Regions from separate parts of the Homo sapiens genome. Here regions 2, 3 and 4 are each linked to region 1. Evidence: fine-mapped expression QTL. A gene starts in region 1. Each other region holds a variant in brackets. All regions are shown on one strand. Distances are from middle to middle.

Evidence for each region. PIP is the estimated chance that this variant, and not a neighbour inherited with it, causes the effect. A credible set is the group of variants that fine-mapping cannot tell apart.
Region 2: its variant is the best candidate, but not a certain one, in a credible set for the expression of TNNT1 in whole blood (INTERVAL, PIP 0.68).
Region 3: its variant is the best candidate, but not a certain one, in a credible set for the expression of TNNT1 in whole blood (TOPMed, PIP 0.51).
Region 4: its variant is the best candidate, but not a certain one, in a credible set for the expression of TNNT1 in monocytes after R848 (Quach 2016, PIP 0.64).

The regions. Positions count from the first base shown.
Region 1 is chr19:55,146,663-55,151,808 of GRCh38, forward strand. It overlaps TNNT1 (troponin T1, slow skeletal type), which reads right to left and starts at 2,544. Exons shown (of 14, transcript NM_003283.6): 1 at 2,499-2,544; 2 at 464-506; 3 at 346-359; 4 at 19-45. The coding sequence starts at 495. TNNI3 (troponin I3, cardiac type) reads right to left here. Exons shown (of 8, transcript NM_000363.5): 8 at 5,105-5,146.
Region 2 is chr19:55,109,736-55,114,881 of GRCh38, forward strand. PPP1R12C (protein phosphatase 1 regulatory subunit 12C) reads right to left here. Exons shown (of 22, transcript NM_017607.4): 2 at 2,930-3,060; 3 at 2,732-2,850. Among named protein-coding and RNA genes, the nearest start is that of PPP1R12C, 5.3 kb to the right of the region's middle. RefSeq lists enhancers at 3,452-3,581, 3,493-4,119, 4,120-4,746. The variant G/A (reference allele first, on the strand shown) is at 2,532.
Region 3 is chr19:54,890,013-54,895,158 of GRCh38, forward strand. FCAR (Fc alpha receptor) reads left to right here. Exons shown (of 5, transcript NM_002000.4): 5 at 1-1,408. Among named protein-coding and RNA genes, the nearest start is that of NCR1, 14 kb to the right of the region's middle. RefSeq lists enhancers at 2,627-3,377, 3,378-4,130. The variant C/T (reference allele first, on the strand shown) is at 3,067.
Region 4 is chr19:55,101,841-55,106,986 of GRCh38, forward strand. It overlaps PPP1R12C (protein phosphatase 1 regulatory subunit 12C), which reads right to left. Exons shown (of 22, transcript NM_017607.4): 4 at 1,569-1,728. Among named protein-coding and RNA genes, the nearest start is that of PPP1R12C, 13 kb to the right of the region's middle. The variant T/TAC (reference allele first, on the strand shown) is at 2,357.

The DNA.
Region 1 (5,146 bases):
CGGAGTCCGGGACCTCACCTTCCTCCTCCTCCTCCGCAGCCTCCTCTGGAGATGGGGGCACAGAAGAGAAGGCGTTAGGAGCTGGGGGAGGGATGGGGGCGGTGGCCAGAGACCAGGGTTCCAGTCTCTGCTGGACGGGGGTCCCTCTGGCCTCGGCTGCGATGGGCACGTTCCCCCTGGCGGTGCAGGGATGGCGCGAGGAGACGCTCCAGACCCGGAGAGGGCGGGCGAGGGCCCGAGGGCTGAGCCGCCCCTTCCCCGCCAAAGTGCCACACTCCTCGCCTCCCCTCCCAAGAGCTCCTGGGCGTGTCCCCATCCCATAGGGCCGGCCCACTCCCTACTCACCTTCCGGCTGCTCCCTGCGGACGGGTGTGGGGAGAGAGGAGGGAGGGGAGAGTTAGACCTGGGGTGGGAGAGCCTCTCCACCACTGCACGCCCCAACCCCTCCCAGTGCAGCACTCACTCCTCATATTCCTGCTCCTCGGTGTCCGACATCCTGGTGCGGCCTAAGGACCAGAGAGAAGAGGCCCAGTGGGGTGGGGCCCCAAGGAGGGGGCGACCTAGACTCCTGGGTGTGAGGGAGGAGGGGCTGGGGGCCTGGACTCCTGGGTCTGGACTCCTGGGTGTGAGAGAGGAGGAGCTGGGGTCTGGACTCCTGGGTGTGAGAGAGGAGGAGCTGGGGCCTGGACTCCTGGGTCTGAGGAAGGAGGGGCTGGGGGCCTGGACTCCTGGGTCTGAGGGAGGAGGGGCTGGGGTCTGGACTCCTGGGTCTGAGGGAGGAGGAGCTGGGGCCTGGACTCCTGGGTCTGAGGAAGGAGGGGCTGGGGCCTGGACTTCTGGGTCTGAGGGAGGAGGGACTGGGGTCCTGAACTCCTGGATCTGAGGGAGGAGGGGCTGGGGGCCGGATTCCTGGGTCTGAGGGAGGAGGGGCTGGGGGGTGTGTGGGAGGGTGGGTGTGGACTCCTGAGACTGAGATGGGTTGTCCTGGACACCTGGGTCTGAGGGAGGAGGGGCTGGGGTCTGGACTCCTGGATCTGAGGGAGGAGGGGCCAGGGGCCTGGACGCCTGGGTCTGAGGGAGGAGGGGCCGCGGGCCTGGACGCCTGGGTCTGAGGGAGGAGGGTCTGGGGGCCTGGCCTCCTGGGTCTGAGGGAGGAGGAGCTGGGGCCTGGACTCCTGGATCTAAGGGAGGAGAGGCTGGGAGTCTAGACTCCTGAGTCTGAGGGAGGAGCGGGCTGGGGGCCTGTACTCCTGCGTCTGAGGGAGGAGGGCTCAGGTCTGGACTCTTGGGTCTGAGGGAGGGGGCCGGCTGTCCTAAAGCATGCATGAGGACAGACCTTGGTAGGTGTGGTCCTGGCACAGCCAGGAGGCTGCAGACCCTGCCCCCTCAGCACAGCTGTCCTCTTTTGTCTTATGACAAGTCCATGGGAACCTGATCCAGTTGGGATTAGGAAGAGGCATTTGAGAAGGGACAGTGGCCTGAAGACAATAGCTGCCCCACCCCCAGGAGCTATTTTGGGGGGATGTCATAGATGGTGAAACCGAGGACATTTCCTAAGAAGGGATTTGAGGAAGGGGGGCTTCTGGGAGAATTAGTCACCCGCATCCCCTCTCCCACTCGCCCCACCCCACTGGCTGGTTTCCTCCCCACCTGTCTCCCCTTTCACCTTCCCATACATCACGTAGGGGGCAGGGGCATAAAGGGCACCTTCTGTCCGTAGACCTCACCCTGACCCCTACATTCTTAGACCTCAAAGTCTTTGAGACACCCTAGGCCACAGGGTGCCTAGCCCCAAATCCCAATACCCACAGATTCTGAGACCCCGATTTATGATGCCCGTGTTTCTGAGGCCAGCAAGTCCTCACAGCTCTGGATTCTGAAATCCCAGTTCTTGATAGTCCAGATATGGGCCGGGACATCCTAAGACCACCCCCAGGTCTTGAGACCTCCTAAAATCTGAAACCTCAAGAATATGAGACCCCCAAAATCTTGATACCCAAACTCGGAGGCCCAGTTCATGATACCCCAGATAATGGCACTCTAAGTTTTCATGCTTTCTATCATAATGTCTCAGATTCCGAGCCCTCCACTACCAAAACCCCAATTTCTTCTGAGACCCCCCCAATTCCTGATACCCTCAGAGTCTGAGGCCCCAAATCCTGACACCCAGATTGTTTGACCTCCAAGTCCAGATATCCCTGACTGCTGAGATTTCCCCCAGATTCCCAGAACCCCAAGATCCTAGGAGGTTTTATTCTGGGACATCCAAGTCCTGGCAGCCCCGGGTTAGGATTTGTGTAACCCACAAATCCTAGTATTTTCCCCTCTATCCTGAGTCCCCCTAAAGTCTGAGCCTCTCAAGTTCCCAGACCTCCAGTTGTATGCCCCACCTACCTCTGCACCATTTCTCCACACCCGACATCTTCCCCACCTGCCTCCTGCCCCCTCCCCCAAGGACATGGTTTTTGAAGACCACAGGGCTCCGCAGAGCCCCTTACCTAGGCTGTGTCTGAGATGCTGTGAATCTTGAGGCTGAGCCTTGCTGAGGGCACTGAAGCTCCGGGGAGTTTATAGCTGGAGGCTCGGGCCCGCCCCGAGGGGAGAGGGAGGGGGAGAGAATTCCTTTGCTCAAACACAAGCCTGGGAGTTCAGAGACAGCCCTGCTGCCCCTGGCTCCACACTCAGAGTCCAGAAGCCTCCGTGGGCCCCTCCCCAACCCCATGCCAACCCCATCTGCATGGCCCAGGAGCCCCGCCCCTGCTCCCACCCCACACCCCAGGCTCCCGTGGTGCTCCAACTACCTCCCTTATAGCTCCCTGTGCTTTGACGTCCCCATGCCCGGCACACAGTAGGTCCTTGGAGGACCTACTAATGACACATGGGCTATAAGGAATGTTTCCTGTTTTCTTCTCTCTGTTCCCTCTTTCTATCTAGGTCTCTTTCTGGACCCCCATTTCTGTTGTCTCTGTGGCTCTCCATCTGTGTGTCTCTGTGTGTCTGTCTCTACTTCTTAGTCTCCTCCTCTGTCTCTGTCCATCTTTTTGTCTCCTCCTCCCACCCCCACCCCTTTGTCTGCCGCCAGGATTCCATCCTGGTGACAACAGGCACTAAAGCCGGGAAGCAGGTGTGGGGAGGGGGAGGGGGAGGGTGGGGTGTCAATTAGGGTGAAACCTACCCTCCCTCCCCACCTCCATCTAACGCTGATCTTTTTTGGTATCCCCCTCCCGCTTCCCAGCCAAGCCATGACCTTGAGTTCTAGGTTCAAGCCAGCCCTGGAGAGCAGGCTTCCTCACCCTCCCCGCCTCTCCGTACCTCTGTCTCTGGTGGTCTCGGTCTTTGTGTTTCTGTGCATTTCTCGGGGCCCCTTGCTGGGTCTGTCTTGGGCTCTCTCTGCATCTGTCGCTTTCTGAGCCCCTCAGTGTGTTTCTCGGCATGTGTCTCCGGGTGGTTTTGTCTCTGCATTTCTGTGGGTGTCTCTGCATGTCTGCCCCTCTCAGCGTTTGTGTCTGTGGGGGCTCACAGTCTCTCTGTGCATTTCTGTCCACCTATGACCCCATTTCTGTCTCTTTTTGGCTCTGGGTCTCTGTGTCTGTGTTCACGTCTCTATCTTTCTAGTTCTCTCCATGTCTCTCTTAGTGCCCGCAGTTCCCCCTCTGTGGCTCTCCATTTCCATCTCTTATAGGGTCTCCATGTCTCTGCACCTTGCTGTGAGTATATCTCTGTCTCTCTTTTCTCCTTTCTTTGCACTTCCTTCTATGCATCTTGTGGTATTTTCTCCCTCTCTCTTTGGGTCTTTGCCTGGCTCCTACTCTCTCTACTCCCAACTCAGTCTCTCTGTTGTCGGTCATGTCTCTCTGCCTGTCTGTTTCTCTGTGTCTCTCTCTCTTTGACCTTTAGTCTTGGCATCTCTGTGCACTCCACATGGGCCAGAGGAGCTGTGACAATAGAGATCAGAAGACTGATGGAATGAACTGTTTGTGGCAATAAGATACCAAATTATAAACAAGACCTAAGGCCATGCCAGGCAAGGGTTAAGCCACGCATCCCTACACTTATATAATCGACTATGTTCCAACTGCCACAAGGCTTTTCCTTTTTCTAGCAGCTAAACAAGCACCGGCCTCAAGATAAGCAATATTACAACCATTGCAGCCATCCATTGCCAGATGCTGACTAGCTGAACCCCCTGTTCCACAAGGCATAACTACAGCATTAGTTGAACAAGAGACTGATTTCAGTAACTTTCTCCTGATAAGATGCCGCAGACCACGGACTGGTTCTGGCTGTTGACAGAGGCTGTGCACTGAGTGTCTTCATATCCCTGCTTCGTGTTTCGATACGAATGCATTCAATGGAATGCACTTAAATGTTAAGCCTCCACCACCAAGTGAAGGTGGGATGCATGTAAAATGTGTTTGCGGCCAGTCGCGGTGGCTCACGCCTGTAATCCCAGCACTTTGGGAGGCCAAGGAGGGCGGATCACGAGGTCAGGAAATCGAGACCAGCCTGGCCAACATGGTGAAACCCCGTCTCTACGAAAAACACAAAAATTAGCTGGGCGTGGTGGTGCATGCCTGTAATCCCAGCTACTGGAGAGGCTGAGGCAGGAGAATGGCTTGAACCCAGGACGCAGAGGTTGCAGTGAGCTGAGATCGTGCCACTGCACTCCAGCCTGGGTGACAGAGCAAGACTCCGTCTCAAAAAAAAAAAAAAATGAGTGTTTGCTTGTCACACATGCGTGTGTCCATGTGTCCACCTGTCCATGAATATTCATAGCTCCTTCTATAACCAGTTGAATACGTGCACTTAGCTAACCCACTCAGCATAAATTCCTGCCTTGCCCTTCCCTCCCTTAAAGTGCCTGCTTTTGTTTTTTGGCAAGAAGCCATGCTTCTGGTCTTCAGGTTGTGATCCGCTTCTTAAGAAACAAAGCTCCGCTCTCCAAATTCATGAACCCCGGGATTCTTTTCAATAACACAGCCAAGAGTGCTTCACATGGGAGACCCATCTGGTCCCCAACCTGCTGTGTGGCTTTGGGGGAGCCCCACCTGCAGTCTTCCCATCTGTCTCCTGCCTAAGCCCTGGGTAATAGACATGGAGTCACTTTCAGCTCAGAGAGAAGCTTTATTCCTCAGGGCCCTCCTCA
Region 2 (5,146 bases), 37 kb before region 1:
TCATGTGGGCGTGTCCTGCAGGGGGTGCAAAAGACCCGCCCTCCTTAGAGCTGGGGTGCAGCCTGTGATCCAGGTCCTGCGCACTGCAGCCCCTCTGAGGCTCCTGTGTGGAGCCGGGTGTCACAGGGTGTCACAGGCAGTCGCCTTGTGATTTGGGGCCGCAGAGTCCCACCCCGAGCAGCACGGCTGAGGGTCTTTCCAGTGGCCCCAGTGGTCTTCGTTCCTGGCTGATCCTACAAGCCAATATCCCCCACCAATGTATCCCTCCCAGCCTTCTCCTCACCCCACGGGAGGGAAGAAGCATGGCCCCCTCTGAGAAGCTGATGCAAGTTATGAGCAATTTCTGCAGGAAAATACAACGTCAGAAAGTTCACAGACCCCCTGGAGGCCATTCCCGGCCTCCCTGGGGTCCAAGGGAAAAGGAGGACTGATCCAGACAGAGGGAGCCTAAATCACCCAGATCTGGATCCCTAGCTGGGCCCTGAACCAGAGCGGGAGAGGCTACAAAGAATGTCAAGGAGAAACGCAGGCAACAGTGTAGCATCAAGGTTGGTGCAGTGGGTGAGAGTGTAGCATCAAGGTTGGTGCGGTGGGTGAGAGTGTAGCATCAAGGTTGGTGCGGTGGGTGAGAGTGTAGCATCAAGGTTGGTGCGGTGGGTGAGAGTGTAGCATCAAGGTTGGTGCGGTGGGTGAGAGTGTAGCATCAAGGTTGGTGCGGTGGGTGAGAGTGTAGCATCAAGGTCAACACAGGGGGTAGCGTGTTGCATCCCTACTGTGGTTCTGCAGGAGGTTTTCCTTGTGGCAGGAGATACCTGCTGTGCATCAGGCGAAGATGTACAATGCCTGCAACACAGTCTCAGAATGGCCGGGCTCACGCCTGTAATCCCAACACTTTGCGAGGCCGAGGCCAGCAGATCGCCTGAGGTCAGGAGTTGGAGACCAGCCTGGTCAACATGGTGAAACCCCATCTCTATTAAAAATGCAAAATTAGCTGGGCATGCTGGCTCACGCCTGTAATCTCAGCTACCCAGAAGCTGAGGCAGGAGAATCGCTTGAACCCAGGAGGTGGAGGTTGCAGTGAGCCGAAATCATGCCATTGCACTCCAGCCTGGGCAAAAAGTGAAACTCTGTTTCAAAAAAAAAAAAAAGGCTCAGGAATGGAAAGGCAGGGGTGGGGTGGTAAGAAAGGAAGGGAGAGATGGAGGGAAAAAAACAGGAGGAGAAAGGATAGGAAAAAATGTGTTTATGTCTATACCTGGGAAGAGATCGCAAGGGAGGGACAGAGAGAAGGAACACAAATCTATCAAAAAGTTAAAAGCTGATGATTCTATACTGTATGATTCCCTTTATGTGAAGTGTACAAAACAGCAAATCCACAGACAGAAGGCAGAGAGGGCTTCGTGGGGTGGGGGGGAGGGGGGGGTGCATGGTTGGGGGTGATGGCTAAGCGGTTGCAGGGTTTCGTTGGGGGATGATGAAAATGTTCTACAACCAATGTGGTCATAAATGCCCGACCCCGTGAATAGACTAAAAAGCACTGAAGTGTGCACTTTGGGTGAATTGTAGGGTAGGTGAATTACATCTCAAAAAGCTGTCTAAAAAACAAAAACAAAAAAGAAAAAGCACTGGCGAATCTTAGTGAAAGTCATATGGGTAGTCACATGCTATTGCTTCAACTTTTCTGTAAATCTGAAGCTTTCCCAAAATAAAAAGTTGGAGGAGGAAGGAGACAGAATCCAGGTCCAGGGCTGATTTGACCCACTCCCCATTTCAACCAAAGAGGGGCTCCCGAACCTCAGATCTCCGCCGTCACGTGTCCCACTAGCTAGTCCTCCCGCATGGCTCTCGTGGACCCCTGAACCCACGCGGAATCCTATCCTTTCAGCCTGGCCAGCGGCCCCGTCAGGACAGCCGCGTCAGAAGTCTCGGAGGCTGCCGGTATCTCATTTCCTCGTCAGTCTCCCTTTCCTTCCACACGGTCCCCTGGAGTCTGCCGGGAACCATGCTCACACCCTTCCACTCCAACCCAGCCAGACCCTGACAACCACCCCATGAAGCGGCACCAGTGGTCCTGTTTTAGGAAATCAGGGAAGCAAGCTTCAGGGACGTGCCTGGAGTCACCAGTCACAGGCAGAGCTGGGAGGCAAGCCCAGGACTTTAGAAGACATGCTGGGGACCCAGGGATCCTGTGTGGCCATCACACACCTGCTAGAAGCAACACCCCTTCCCTAGAAAAATGAACCTGGCCAGACACAGTTTCAGGGGCTCCTGGACCCCATATGAAGGCTCCTGGGGTACGATGAGTCTCAGAGGACAGGGAGACCAGTCCCTGGCAACCCCTGCATGCCCCTACTCCCCCCCAAGTAAACGCATCCCCTCCCAGAAAGACCTGCGGCAGGGTTCCAGCAATCCTACCTAACGCACTCCTGGGTGAGTCCCTCCACCCACCCACCCCGCCCCGGCATTCCAATCCCCTCAGTTACTCAGGGGGATTGACAGTCCCAGTTGGTAGGGGTTTGAGTTCTCATCCT[G/A]TGCGTGTGCTGGGCTCCAAGCAATCCTGGAGGCAGGCCCCTACACCCCCATTTCACAGGTGAGGAAACTGAGGCACAAAGAAAGACAATCCTAGGAAGCAGGGTCAGCCTCGGTGCCCAGGCCGCCTCTAAAGCTCTCAGCCTGGAGACCACGGGTGAGGAGGTGTCCCCCACCCCACACACAGCACACCAGAGCCCACCTCGGCGGGCGATCTCCGCCTTCAGCAGCCCCTCCATGGCGTCCGACTCGGCCAGGTCCAGGGGCAGGTCCCCGTCACTGTTGACGGCGGCGATGTTGGCCCCGTGGCTCAGGAGGTACCTGGGGGTGGGGGCTGGTCAGGGCTGAGGGTCCAGGCCCCCACCCCGACCAGGTCCTGCCCGGCCCTCCCTTGCCTCACCTGGCGATATCTAGGTAGCCACAGGAGGCGGCCACGTGCAGTGGCGTCCAGCCCTCGTTGTCTGCCTGGTTCACAGTGGCGCCCTGCTCCACCAAGAAGCGCACCACCTCCAGGTTCTCATCAATGCAGGCCTGGGGGTGGGAAACAGCCGTCAGCCGCACCTACCCCAGCCACGGTGTCCCAGCAAGTCGGGACTCCAGAGGGAGCCACGAAAACAGATCCAGGGACACGGTGCTAGGACAGTGGGGAAAATGACCCAACAGCCTCTGGCCACTGGCTGTTTAAGATACGCCTGGTTGCCCAGTGGTCAGGCCGGCCAGGCCTTCAGTGCTCAGTGGAAACCACGAAAGGACTCCTGGCTATCTGCAAACAGGAAGTGAACGGGGAAGGGAGGGGGCTTCTCATCTGGGTGCGGGAACCCCACATGGTACCTGTTAGACACGGCAAAACCCCCGTCACCACCCACAGGTGGCGCTTCCAGTGCTCAGACTAGGGAAGAGGTTCCAGCCCCTCCTCCTTCAGAGCCAGGAGTCCTGGCCCCCAGCCCCTCCTGCCTTAAACCCAGCCAGGTCCTTCCAAGGGTCAAGCTCGGAAACCACCCCAGCAGATACTCTGCAGGAACGAAGCCGTGGGCCCAGGGCTATGCAGGGTGGAGGAAGGCCACCCTGTGCTGGGACAGACTCAGGGGCCTGGGCGGGACTCCCAGAGGGGTGAGACAGCTGCACACCTGTGTGCCTGGGCCCCAGGCTGTCACACTCCAGTTCACTGAGGCCCCCTCTGCACGGGGCCCTGCAGCCAGGGGCTGACACGGGCCACCGTTTCTCATTCTTCCCTTAGGGGTCCAAAACTTGGGGGGACAAAAGCCGAAGTCCAGGGGGTCGGAGGAGGGACTTGCCCCAGGCCTTGTGGACACTGGGTGGGCTCCGGGACCTGAACTGGAGCTGAGGAAGGAGTGAAGCTAAACTCCTAGATCCACGGGATAAATTACCCCCCAAGTCCCTCACCTCTCCAAAGCTGCCCATCTGGAGGAGGCGGGAGGGAGCTACGAGGGCCAAGAGCATGAGGTCATGGAAACTCGGGCTGTGAAGGGGCCGCACGTGCCCTGGGAACGGGATGAACTCGGCTCGTTTATTTCCACCCAGTTGTCATGGCGATAGGGGAGGGGGGCAAGGAGAGCAATGGGCCTTTCCCTTTCAAGGACCTGCCCAGTACAGGCATCCCTGTGAAAGATGCCTGAGGCCTGGGCACCAGGGACTCCAGAGTCCAGGCCCAACCCCTCCCCATTCAACCCAGGAGGCCAGGCCCCAGCCCTTCCGCCCTCAGATGAAGGAGTCCAGGCCCCCAGCCTCTCCCCATTCAGACCCAGGGGTCCAGGCCCAGCCCCGCCTCCCTAAGACCCAGAAGTCCAGGCCCCCAGCCCCTCCTCCCTCAGACCCACGAGTCCAGGCCCCAGCCCCTCCTCCCTCGGACCCAGGAGTCCAGGCCCCCAGTCCCTCCACCCTCAGACCCAGGAGTCCAGGCCCCAGCCCCTCCTCCCTCGGACCCAGGAGTCCAGGCCCCAGCCCCTCCTCTCTCAAACCCAGGAGCCCAGGCCCCCAGCTCTTCTCTGTTCAGCCCTAAGAATCCTGGCTCCAGCCCCTCCTACTCTAGCCCCCAACCCCCTAGCCACTAAGGCAATTGGGGTGCAGGAATGGGGGCAGGGTACCAGCCTCACCAAGTGGTTGATAAACCCACGTGGGGTACCCTAAGAACTTGGGAACAGCCACAGCAGGGGGGCGATGCTTGGGGACCTGCCTGGAGAAGGATGCAGGACGAGAAACACAGCCCCAGGTGGAGAAACTGGCCGGGAATCAAGAGTCACCCAGAGACAGTGACCAACCATCCCTGTTTTCCTAGGACTGAGGGTTTCAGTGCTAAAACTAGGCTGTCCTGGGCAAACAGCATAAGCTGGTCACCCCACACCCAGACCTGACCCAAACCCAGCTCCCCTGCTTCTTGGCCACGTAACCTGAGAAGGGAATCCCTCCTCTCTGAACCCCAGCCCACCCCAATGCTCCAGGCCTCCTGGGATACCCCGAAGAGTGAGTTTGCCAAGCAGTCACCCCACAGTTGGAGGAGAATCCACCCAAAAGGCAGCCTGGTAGACAGGGCTGGGGTGGCCTCTCGTGGGGTCCAGGCCAAGTAGGTGGCCTGGGGCCTCTGGGGGATGCAGGGGAA
Region 3 (5,146 bases), 260 kb before region 1:
TGCAGTGGAGCAATCTCGGCTCATTGAACCTCTTGGGTTCAAGTGATTCTTGTGCCTCAGCCTCCCAAGTAGCTGGAATTACAGGCACATACCACTGCACCCAGCTAATTTTTGTATTTTTAGTAGAGATGGGGTTTCACTGTGTTGGCCAGGCTGGTCTCGAACTCCTGACCTCAGGTGATCCACCCACCTTGGCCTCCCAAAGTGCTGAGATTATAGGCATGAGCCACCACGCCTGGCCAGATGCATGTTCAAACCAATCAAATGGTGTTTTCTTATGCAGGACTGATCGATTTGCACCCACCTTTCTGCACATAAGTTATGGTTTTCCATCTTATCTGTCTTCTGATTTTTTATATCCTGTTTAATTTCTTCCTTCATTGTTCTTCTCTTTTTTTATTTATTTTATTTATTTTTATTTTTATTTTTATTTGAGACAGAGTCTCACTCTGTTGCCCAGGCTGGAGTGCAGTGGCACGATCTCGGCTCACTGCAACCTCTGCCTCCTGGGTTCAAGTGATTCTCCTGCCTCGGCCTCCCAAGTAGCTGGGATTGCAGGCTCCCACCATCACGCCCAGCTACTTTTACAGTATTTTTAGTAGAGACGGGGTTTCATCACATTGGCCAAGCTGGTCTCAAACTTCTGACCTCGTGATCTGCCCGCCTCGGCCTCCCAAAGTGCTGGGATTACAGATGTGAGCCACTGCGCCCAGCCTTCTTTTTATATTTTTAAATGTGTCTTCCCCAAATATAAATGGTTGGTAAGCATGCCAAATATATTCAATAACCCCCCTCCTTTATTTTTTTTTGTTGAAGTGAGGCTCTCCCTATGTTGCCTAAGCTGGTCTTGAACTCCTGGTCTCAAGCAATCCTCCTACCTCAGCCTCCTGCTGTGTTCATCTACAAATTGATAAGAGTGAAAGTCATAATCCTACAGGAGGATTACCCTATTTATTTCACAAACCCTATTTCTACCGGATTTTCATACAAGGAATACAGGCATGTGTTTCACCTCATTAATTTATTTTTTCACTTAGTTTTGATGATATTCACATATATTATCAAGTGTGCAAACATTAAATTCTTGTGTACAAAACTCAAATGGTCTTCCAAATAATTCCCCATTCTTTTTTCTTATAAACTTTCACAGCTTTACCCTTGACAGACTTTACTCAAGGAAATCTAAGTTGGTCATATGTGGCTCTTTCACTGATTGCTATTTACTTCATTGTCCAGTAGCTTATGTATGAAAATATAATTATAAAATGTAAGGGTCCTACTTCCAGTGAAACTGAAGGGACTTAGGCCCACTTTTATCCTTTACTGAGAGCTTATCTCTACTTGATAAAATTTCTACTGTATTCTTGGCTTAACTCAGGTCCTGTGATTAAAAAAAAAATGCAAAGTATTTCTAACTTTCTTTATTGACTGCTTTTCACACTTTATACAAGTTCTGGCCCATATCTTCAGTTTGTTCTGATTTTTTTCACCAGGTGTGGTGGCAGGTGCCTGTAGTCCCAGCTACTCCAGGGGCTGAGGCAGGAGAATGGCGTGAACCTGGGAGGCGGGGCTTGCAATGAGCTGAGATCACGCCACTACACTCCAGCCTGGGCCACAGAGCGAGACTCCGTCTCAAAAGTAAACAAACAAATAAATAATAAATAAATAAATAAAGGGAAAGTGCCACAATTTTGGATGAAGGGGGTTGAGGGACTTTACGTCAGGTCCAGGACTTGGATTACAGAGACACAATGGGGCTAGATTCCCAGAGATGGATAAGATTAAACTCATATAAGTCGTTTTGCTGACAGAAGGACCTTGTTTGGAAAAAGCGTTTTCAGAATAATAAAGTTCCTGAGCTCTTCAGAAAAGTATTTTATTGTCCTGTAACCACAGTAACAAGTAGCCACCAAAACTGATTTTTAACCCATCATCAATGACAACTCATCTCTGTGAAGATGCTCTTTTTTTTTTTTTTTTTTTTTGAGACGGGGTCTTGCTCTGTCACCCAGGCTGGGGAGCAGTGACGTGACCTCGGCTCCCTGCAACCTCTCTTTCCCGGGTTCAGCAATTCTCCTGCCTCAGCCTCCCCAGTAGCTGGGATTATAGGCACCTGCCACCACACGCAGATAATTTTTGTATTTTTAGTACAGACGGGTTTCGCCATGTTGGCCAAGCTGGTCACAAACTTCTGACCTCAGGGTGATCTGCCTGCCTCAGCCTCTCAAAGTGCTGGGATTACAGGAGTGAGCCACAAAGCCCGGCCACTCCATACGTTTTATATTGTTATGTTACCATCAGTCAGGCAGCTCCTTGCTTCTAAAAGTCATCCAATCAGACTCATTTCAGTAAACACCCAAGCATGAGTGACAACCAATCAAAGTAATATCTTCCCAATGACCACACTTTTCCAGATGACGTCAAGCCACAGAAGGCCCTGAAAATCCAACAATCTCTGAAGTATACATTTCCCAGGCTGAGCGCAGTGGCTCACACCTGAAATCCCAGCACTTTGGGAGGCTAAGGCAGGCAGATCACGAGGCCAGGAGTTCGAGACCAGCCTGGCCAACATGGCAAAACCCCGTCTCTACTAAAAATACAAAAATTAGCCAGGTGTGGTGGCACGCACCTGCATTACCAGCTACTGAGGAGGCTGAGGCAGGAGAATGGCTTGAACCCAGGAGGCGGAGGTTGCAGTGAGCCAAGATCGTACCACCGCACTCCAGCCTTGGTGACAGAGCAAGACTCCATCTCAACAACAACAACAAAAATGGTTGAAATAAAACTTCTATGTGTTGAACGATTCCTCTTTTAGGCATAGAGTTTCAGTTTTACAAGATGAAAATATTCTGGAGATCTGTTTCAAAACACCGTGAATACATTTAACACTGCTATACTGTACACTTACAATGGCTAAGATGGTAAATTGTATGTTATGTTTTTACTACAATTTTTTTTTTTTTTTTTCTGAGACAGAGTCTCACTCTTGTTGCCCAGGCTGGAGTGCAATGGTGCGGTCTCGGCTCACCGCAACCTCCGCCTCCTGGGCTCAAGCCATTCTCCTGC[C/T]TCAGCCTCCAGAGCAGCTGGGATTACAGGCATGCGCCACCACGCCTGGCTAATTTTATATTTTTAGAAGAGACGGGGTTTCTCCATGTTGGTCAGGCTGGTCTCGAACTCTGGACCTCAGGTGATCCACCCGCCTTGGCCTCCCAAAGTGCTGGGATCACAGGCGTGAGCCACCACGCCTGGCCTACAATTTTTTTTTAACTTTTTTTTCTGAGATGGAGTCTCGCTCTTGTCACCCAAGTTGGAGTGCAGTAGTGTGATCTCGGCTCACTGCAACCTCTGCCTCCCTGGTTCAAGGGATTCTCCTGCCTCAACCTCCCAAGTGTGGGAGATCAGTCAGAGTAGCAGAAGAAATTATAGGAATAGGAAGCAGCAAACCTTCTTGGAAGGCCAGGGAGGTTGGCATAGCTTCAGATAGTTTGGCTGAAAGCAGCCAGATTCTCTTTTCAGGAGCCAAACAGCTTAGGGCGCAGATACAAAGGAATGCGGAGTATTTTATCTAAATAGCTTGCTTAGTCATATGGTCCTAAAATCAACCTTTGATCATTCTCGGGCAAGATGGCCCTCTCCAGGGAGGTGGCGGGGGGCGGTGACCAGGTTAATTACCCACAGGTGTGTTGACTCAAAGCCTTTGTTAATTAAATCTGTGCTAAATAAATGCAAGCGTTGCCAGCTTAGAGGGGCTGCACTCTCTTTGGCTCCTAGTGCCGGCAGCCCCCTGGCCTGCTCTTTCACTGAATATTGGTGTCTGAGGACGTGTCTCATCTGTCGTACAGCTGGGATCTGCAGAACAGATCCCCCCCGCACCCAAGAAGCTGGGATTACAGGCACCCGCCGCCATGCCCAGCTCATTTTTGTATTTTTAGTAGAGACAGGGTTTCACCATGTTGGTCAGGCCGGTCTCGAACTCCCGGCCTCAGGTGATCTGCCCGCCTCAGCCTCCCAAAAGTGCTTGGATTACAGGCATGAGCCACTGCGCCTGGCCTTAGAAAACTTCTTTTTCTTTTTTTTTTTTTTTTTTTTTTGAGACAGAGTTTCACTCTGTCGCTACGCTGGTGTGATCTGGGCTCACTGCAATCTCCGCCTCCCAGGTTCAAGTGATTCCCCTGCCTCAGCCTCCCGAGTAGCTGGAACTACAGGTGCGCACCGCCACGCCCGGCTAATTTCTTGTATTTTCGTGGAGACGGGGTTTCACCATGTTGGCTAGGCTGGTCTGTTTCATGCGCGTCCGTGTGAAGAGACCACCAAACAGGCTCTGTGTGAGCAACAAGGCTGTTTATTTCACCTGGGTGCAGGCAGGCTGAGTCCGACAAGAGAGTCAGCGAAGGGGGATAGGGGTGGGGCCGTTTTATAGGATTTGGGTAGGTAAAGGAAAATTACAGTCAAAGGGGGGTTGTTCTTTGGTGGGCAGGAGTGGGGGGTCACAAGGTGCTCAGTAGGGGAGCTTTTGAGTCAGGATGAACCAGAAGAAGGAATTTCACAAGATAATGTCATCAGTTAAGGCAGGAACAGGCCATTTTCATTTCTTTCGTGGTGGAATGTCATCAGTTAAGGCAGGAACCGGCCATCTGGATGTGTACGTGCAGGTCACAGGGGATATGATGGCTTAGCTTGGGCTCAGAGGCCTGACATTCCTGTCTTCTTATATTAATAAGAAAAATAAAACGAAATAGTGGTAAAGTGTTGGGATGGCGAAAATTTTGGGGGGTGGTATGGAGAGAGAATGGGCGATGTTTCTCAGGGCTGCTTCGAGCGGGATTAGGGGCGGCGTGGGAACCTAGAGTGGGAGAGATTAAGCTGAAGGAAGATTTTGTGGTAAGGGGTGATATTGTGGGATTGTTAGAAGAAACATTTTTCATTTAGAATTACTGGTGATGGCCTGGATGCAGTTTTGTATGAATTGAAAAACTAAATGGAATAAGGAAAGGAGAAAAACAGGTATTAAAGGTCTAAGAATTGGGAGGACCTAGGACATCTAATTAGAGAGTGCCTAAGGAGGTTCAGCATAGCCTTGCCAGCAAAGATTATTTATTTACTTCAAGAGTTAAGAGTGGTGGTTTGGGGATAGCACCAGGAGATA
Region 4 (5,146 bases), 45 kb before region 1:
GCGGTCTGGAGCTGTTACGGGTGCTAGGCCGAAGGGACAGCGGCCTGGAGCTGTTACAGGTGCTAAGCCGAAGGGACAGCGGCCTGGAGCGGTTAGAGGCATCTTATGTACCTCACCGAGAAAACCTGACTAAAAACTGTCAACATAGAGATGAGCAGAGACAGGGAGGAATTCATGTTAACTTCATTTTTATACTAAATAATAAAGTATATGATCACAAAAGAGAGAAGAGGGAACTGAAAAAAGAATGAGGAGCCTGAGGATGAGAACTGGAACCAACAACTTTAATAGAAAGGGGAAAGGCAGCCAAATAGGAACAAAATCTAAGACTGAGGTGAGGATGACAGAAAGGGAATGTGTACTAGAACAATTTAAACTATATATGCACCTTGGTTGGGTGCAGTGGCTCACGCCTGTAACCCCAGCATTTTGGAAGACTGAGGCAGGGAGATTACCTGAGGTCAGGAGTTCAAGAGCAACCTGGCCAACATGGAGAAACCCCATCTCTGCTAGAAATACGAGTTAGCCAAGTGTGGTGGCACACTCTCATAGTCACAGCTCCTGGGGAGGCTGAGGCAGGAGAATTCCTTGAACCCAGGAGGTGGAGGTTGCAGTGAGCTATGATCACACCACTGCACTCCAGCCTAGGTGACAGAGCGAGACTCCGTCTCAAAAACAAACAAAAATAAACTATATATGCACCAAATAATCTAGTCTTAAAATATATACAAATTGTAACTGACAGAACTATAAGAAGAAACAAAGTCCATAATCACAGCAAGAATTTAAATGCACCTCTCATAGTAACTGACAGAATAAGCAGTGGGTGAAATATCACTAAAGATAAAGAAGCACTACAAATAAAACAGCATGATTACAAGGTTGACCTAATAACCTACAGAGAACACTGTACCTGATGACACCATTCTTTTCCGACTTACATGTACTGGGGTATATAAGGTAAAACGATACATTTCAAAAGCTAGAATCATATGGAACCCATTCTCTGACCACAATGCAATTAAGCCAGGAAAATAGTAACAAAATGATGACTAGAAGTCCTATATATTTTGAAATTAGGCCAAGCACAGTGGCTTACACCTGTAATCCCAGCACTTTGGGAGGCTGAGGTAGGAGGATCACTTGAGCCCAGGAGTTCGAGACAAGCCTGGGCCACATGGTGAAACCCCATCTCTACAAAAATTAGCGGGGCATGGTGGTGTGCGCCTGTAGTCCCCACTATTCAGGAGGCTGAGGTAGGAGGATCACCTGAGCCTGGGGAGTTTGAGGCTGCAGTGAGCCACGACTGTGCCACTGCACTCCAGCCTGGGTGACATAGCAAGACCCTGTCTCAAAATAAATAAATAATAAAAGATTACAAATTGGGAAATATTTTACACTGAATGACAATAAAAAAAAGACTGCACATCAAAACTTGTGGGTACAGCTAAGGCTGTATTTAGAGGGAAATACATAGCCTTCGGTACATACATTTAAAAAGAAAGGGAAAGGACAAGATCCACAGGAAGGTATAAGACAGCAAGATGGAACAGACTGGCCCAACTCACCTCATCACCTCAATGTAGCCCTTGGCAGCAGCCACGTGCAGGGCAGAGGCGCCTGTGCGGGGGTGCCGGGCCTCTGGCATGGCGCCCCCATTCAGCCAGCACCTCGTGTCATGAAGGAGCAATTCCTCTTCTGCCCGCTTGGCTGCTTCCACATCCACACCTAGGAGGATAAGAGGCACGAGGTAGGACTCACACCCCATGACCTGAAATACCCAGGGTCATACACTGGGCTGGCCAGGGTTCAGCCCAGTGACTTGCCCAGAGCTCTTCCCCCTGCTCCCCTCTGAGACTCAGGAGGCCCAGACTAGCCCAGTTGTTTCCCAACTGTACTCCATGCAGTCGTGTGTCCCACTCAGGGTCTCTGAGTCAGCGCTAAGCACTGGGAAAACGGAGATCACAGGCCTTTCCCCATTTCAACCAGAAATTCACCGTATTTTTATTATTTTTAATATAAAACCATGGCCGGGTGCAGTGGCTCATGCCTGCAATCCCAGCAACTTTGAGAGGCCAAGGCAGGTGGATCACGAGCTCAGGACTTCAAGACCAGCCTGGCCAACACAGTGAAACCCCATCTCTACTAAAACTACAAAAAAAAAAAAAAAAATTTAGCCAGGTGTGGTGGCAGGTGGCTGTAGTCCCAGCTACTTGGGAGGCTGAGGCAGGAGAATCGCTTGAACCCGGGAGTTGGAGGTTGCAGTGAGCTGAGATCACGCCACTGCACTCCAGCCTGGGCAACACAGTGAGACTCTGTCTAAAAAAAAAAAAAAAAAAGTATATATATATATATA[T/TAC]ATACACACACACACACATACAAAAATATAAATATAAAAAATATTTATATATATAATATATATATAACATATATATGCATCTCCTATATATATAACACCTATATATACACATTTCCTATATATATAAAACCTATATATATATCTCTCCTATATATGTAACATATATAGACAGAAGTGGTAATGGTGATAAAATGTATGAAGATGCTGGATTAAGATTATATTGGGGGGTGGCACAACGGCTCATGCCTGTAATCCCAACACTTTGGGAGACCAAGGTGGGCAGATCACCTGAGGTCAAGAGTTCGAGACCAGCCTGCCCAACGTGTTGAAACCGTGTCTCTCCTAAAAATACCAAAATTAGCTCAGCATGGTGACTTATGCCTGTAATCCCAGTTACTTGGGAGGCTGAGGCGGAAGGATCTCTTGAATCTTGGAGGCGGAAGTTGCAGTGAGATTGCACCACTGCACTCCAGCCTGGGTGATAGAGTGAGACTCCGTCTCCAAAAAAAAAAAAAATTATATTGGTAGTGACAGGAAAAGTTAGATGTAATTGAGCACTGGATTTGCTCAGTAAACTTTAGGCCATATATATATATATATGGTCTCGCTCTGTCACCCAGGCTGGAGTGCAGTGGCATGATCTTGGCTCACTGCAACTTCTGCCTCCCAGGTTCAAGCGGTTCTCCTGCCTCAGCTTCTTGAGTAGCTGGGATTACAGGCACACGCCACCACACCCAGCTAACTTTTGTATTTTTAATAGAGATGGGGTTTCATCATGTTGGCCAGGCTGGTCTTGAACTCCTGACCTCATGATCCACCCGCCTCGGCCTCCCAAAGTGCTGAAATTACAGGCAGGAGCCACCGCATCTGACCCTTTTTTTTTTTTTGAGACAGGACCTCACACTGTCACCCAGGCTGGAGTACAGTGGTGCAATTATGGCTCACTGAAGCCTCAAATTCCCAGGCTCAAGGGATCCTCCTGCCTTGGCCTCCCAAAGCCGGCATGAGCCACCACACCTGGCTGTGTCATTTCTTTAAAGGAGTCACCAACTGTTCAATCCTATTATAGCCGAATGGGTCTCAATTCAGGGAGGGGAAGGGAGGGTGACTGGCTTTTTATTCAACCACAGTCAGCGCCCTCTGCATGTCTGCTGCACATCCTTCTGCAATTTGCTTCTTGTGTTCAACATGTTGCTGAGATCTGTCTGTATCTGTAGACAGAGCCCTTGCCCAGGGGTCAGAAAGCTATAGCTTGTGGGTGTTGACCACCTGTTGTGTTTTCTTTATCTTTTGTTGTGGTGGTGGTGGTAAAATAAACAACATAAAATTTACCAACTTCCCTGTTTTAAAGTGCACAATTCAGTGGCATTTAGGATACCTCCAATATTATGCAACCATCACCACTATCTACTTCCTGAGCTTTTTCATGATCCCAAATGGATACTGTATCCAAGAAGAAGTCACTCCCAGCCAGGCACCATGGCTCATGCCTGTAATCCCAGTACTTTGGGAGGCCAAGATGGGAGATCACTTGAGCCCACTAGTTTGAGAACAGCCTGAGCAACATAGGGAGACCTTGTCTCTAGAAAAATAAAATTAGCTGGGCATGGTGGTGCACACCTATGGTCTCAGCTACTTGGGAGGCTGAGATGGAAGGATCACTTGGGCCCACGAGGTCAAGGCTGCAGTGAGCCATTATCACTCCACCGCACTCCAGCCTGGGAGGCAGCGTGAGATCCTGTCTTAAAAAAAAAAAAAAAGTCACTTCTCAGACCTCCCTCTCCGCCAGCCCCTTGCACCCAGCAATCTTTCTGTCCCTGTGGATTTGCCTATTCTGAAAGGCGATTTTTGTCAATAAACGTGGGATGGAACAGTCATTCCCATTCATTCACACACCATCCCTAGCAGTCTCCCGCTCCACAGCACTAGTGGAATAGTGGTGCCAGGCATGGTGTGTCCCGCAACACCTGAAACATTCATTGTCTAGCCCTTTACAGAGAAAGTTTGCTGACCCCTGCTTAGATCACTCATTTAGAGTTTAGTGATTGATCCATCCTCTTTGGTGTGGGCTCCGACCTCTTACTACTGCAAACAATACTATGATGAACATCTGCCCATGGTTGGGAAGGCCTCTCTCGGGCTGCCCAGGAGTGGAACTGCTAGAACAAGGCAAAGCTGGGGCCTTCGGCTATAATCCATGCTGACCAACCACTTCCCAAAGTAGCTGGAATCATCACCTTTCCCACCAGGCAGAAATCAGCTCCCGTGTCCGCCCTTGTCAGCACTTGGAGCTATCCAATGGTCGATTCCGCCTGCCTCCAAGGGTAACTCCCCCTCTTCCAGCTGACTTGGATGCTGGAATTCCAAGTGAGCTGGCTTCAAATGTTTCAAAAACACATCATGTCTTCTTCCTGCCAGTTCCATGCCCCTGTGCAAAGTGGCCAGGGAGGGTCCCTTCTGCACAGGACATGGTGCTGCTGCGTGTCCCTGCAGCACAGCTGCTGCTTGGGCCTACGAAAATCCATTCTCCCTTCCCCTGTGACCTCATCTTGACTTTCCTCACCCACACTTTGCCCCATATGGTTTCAATGTGACCGGGCCCATAGCCTGGCTCCAGGGTGCGCACATCACCAGGCCTTCCTGTCACCTTTGCAACAGTGATGGGCTCAGGAGCTGCCATCTGACCAAGGTGGCCCAGTGAGCATCACGCACAGGGCAAGAGGTGCTGTGTTTTGGCTGTGATATGGGCCTGCAGTAGGACCCATGCTGAGTGCCTCACGGAGAGAACCT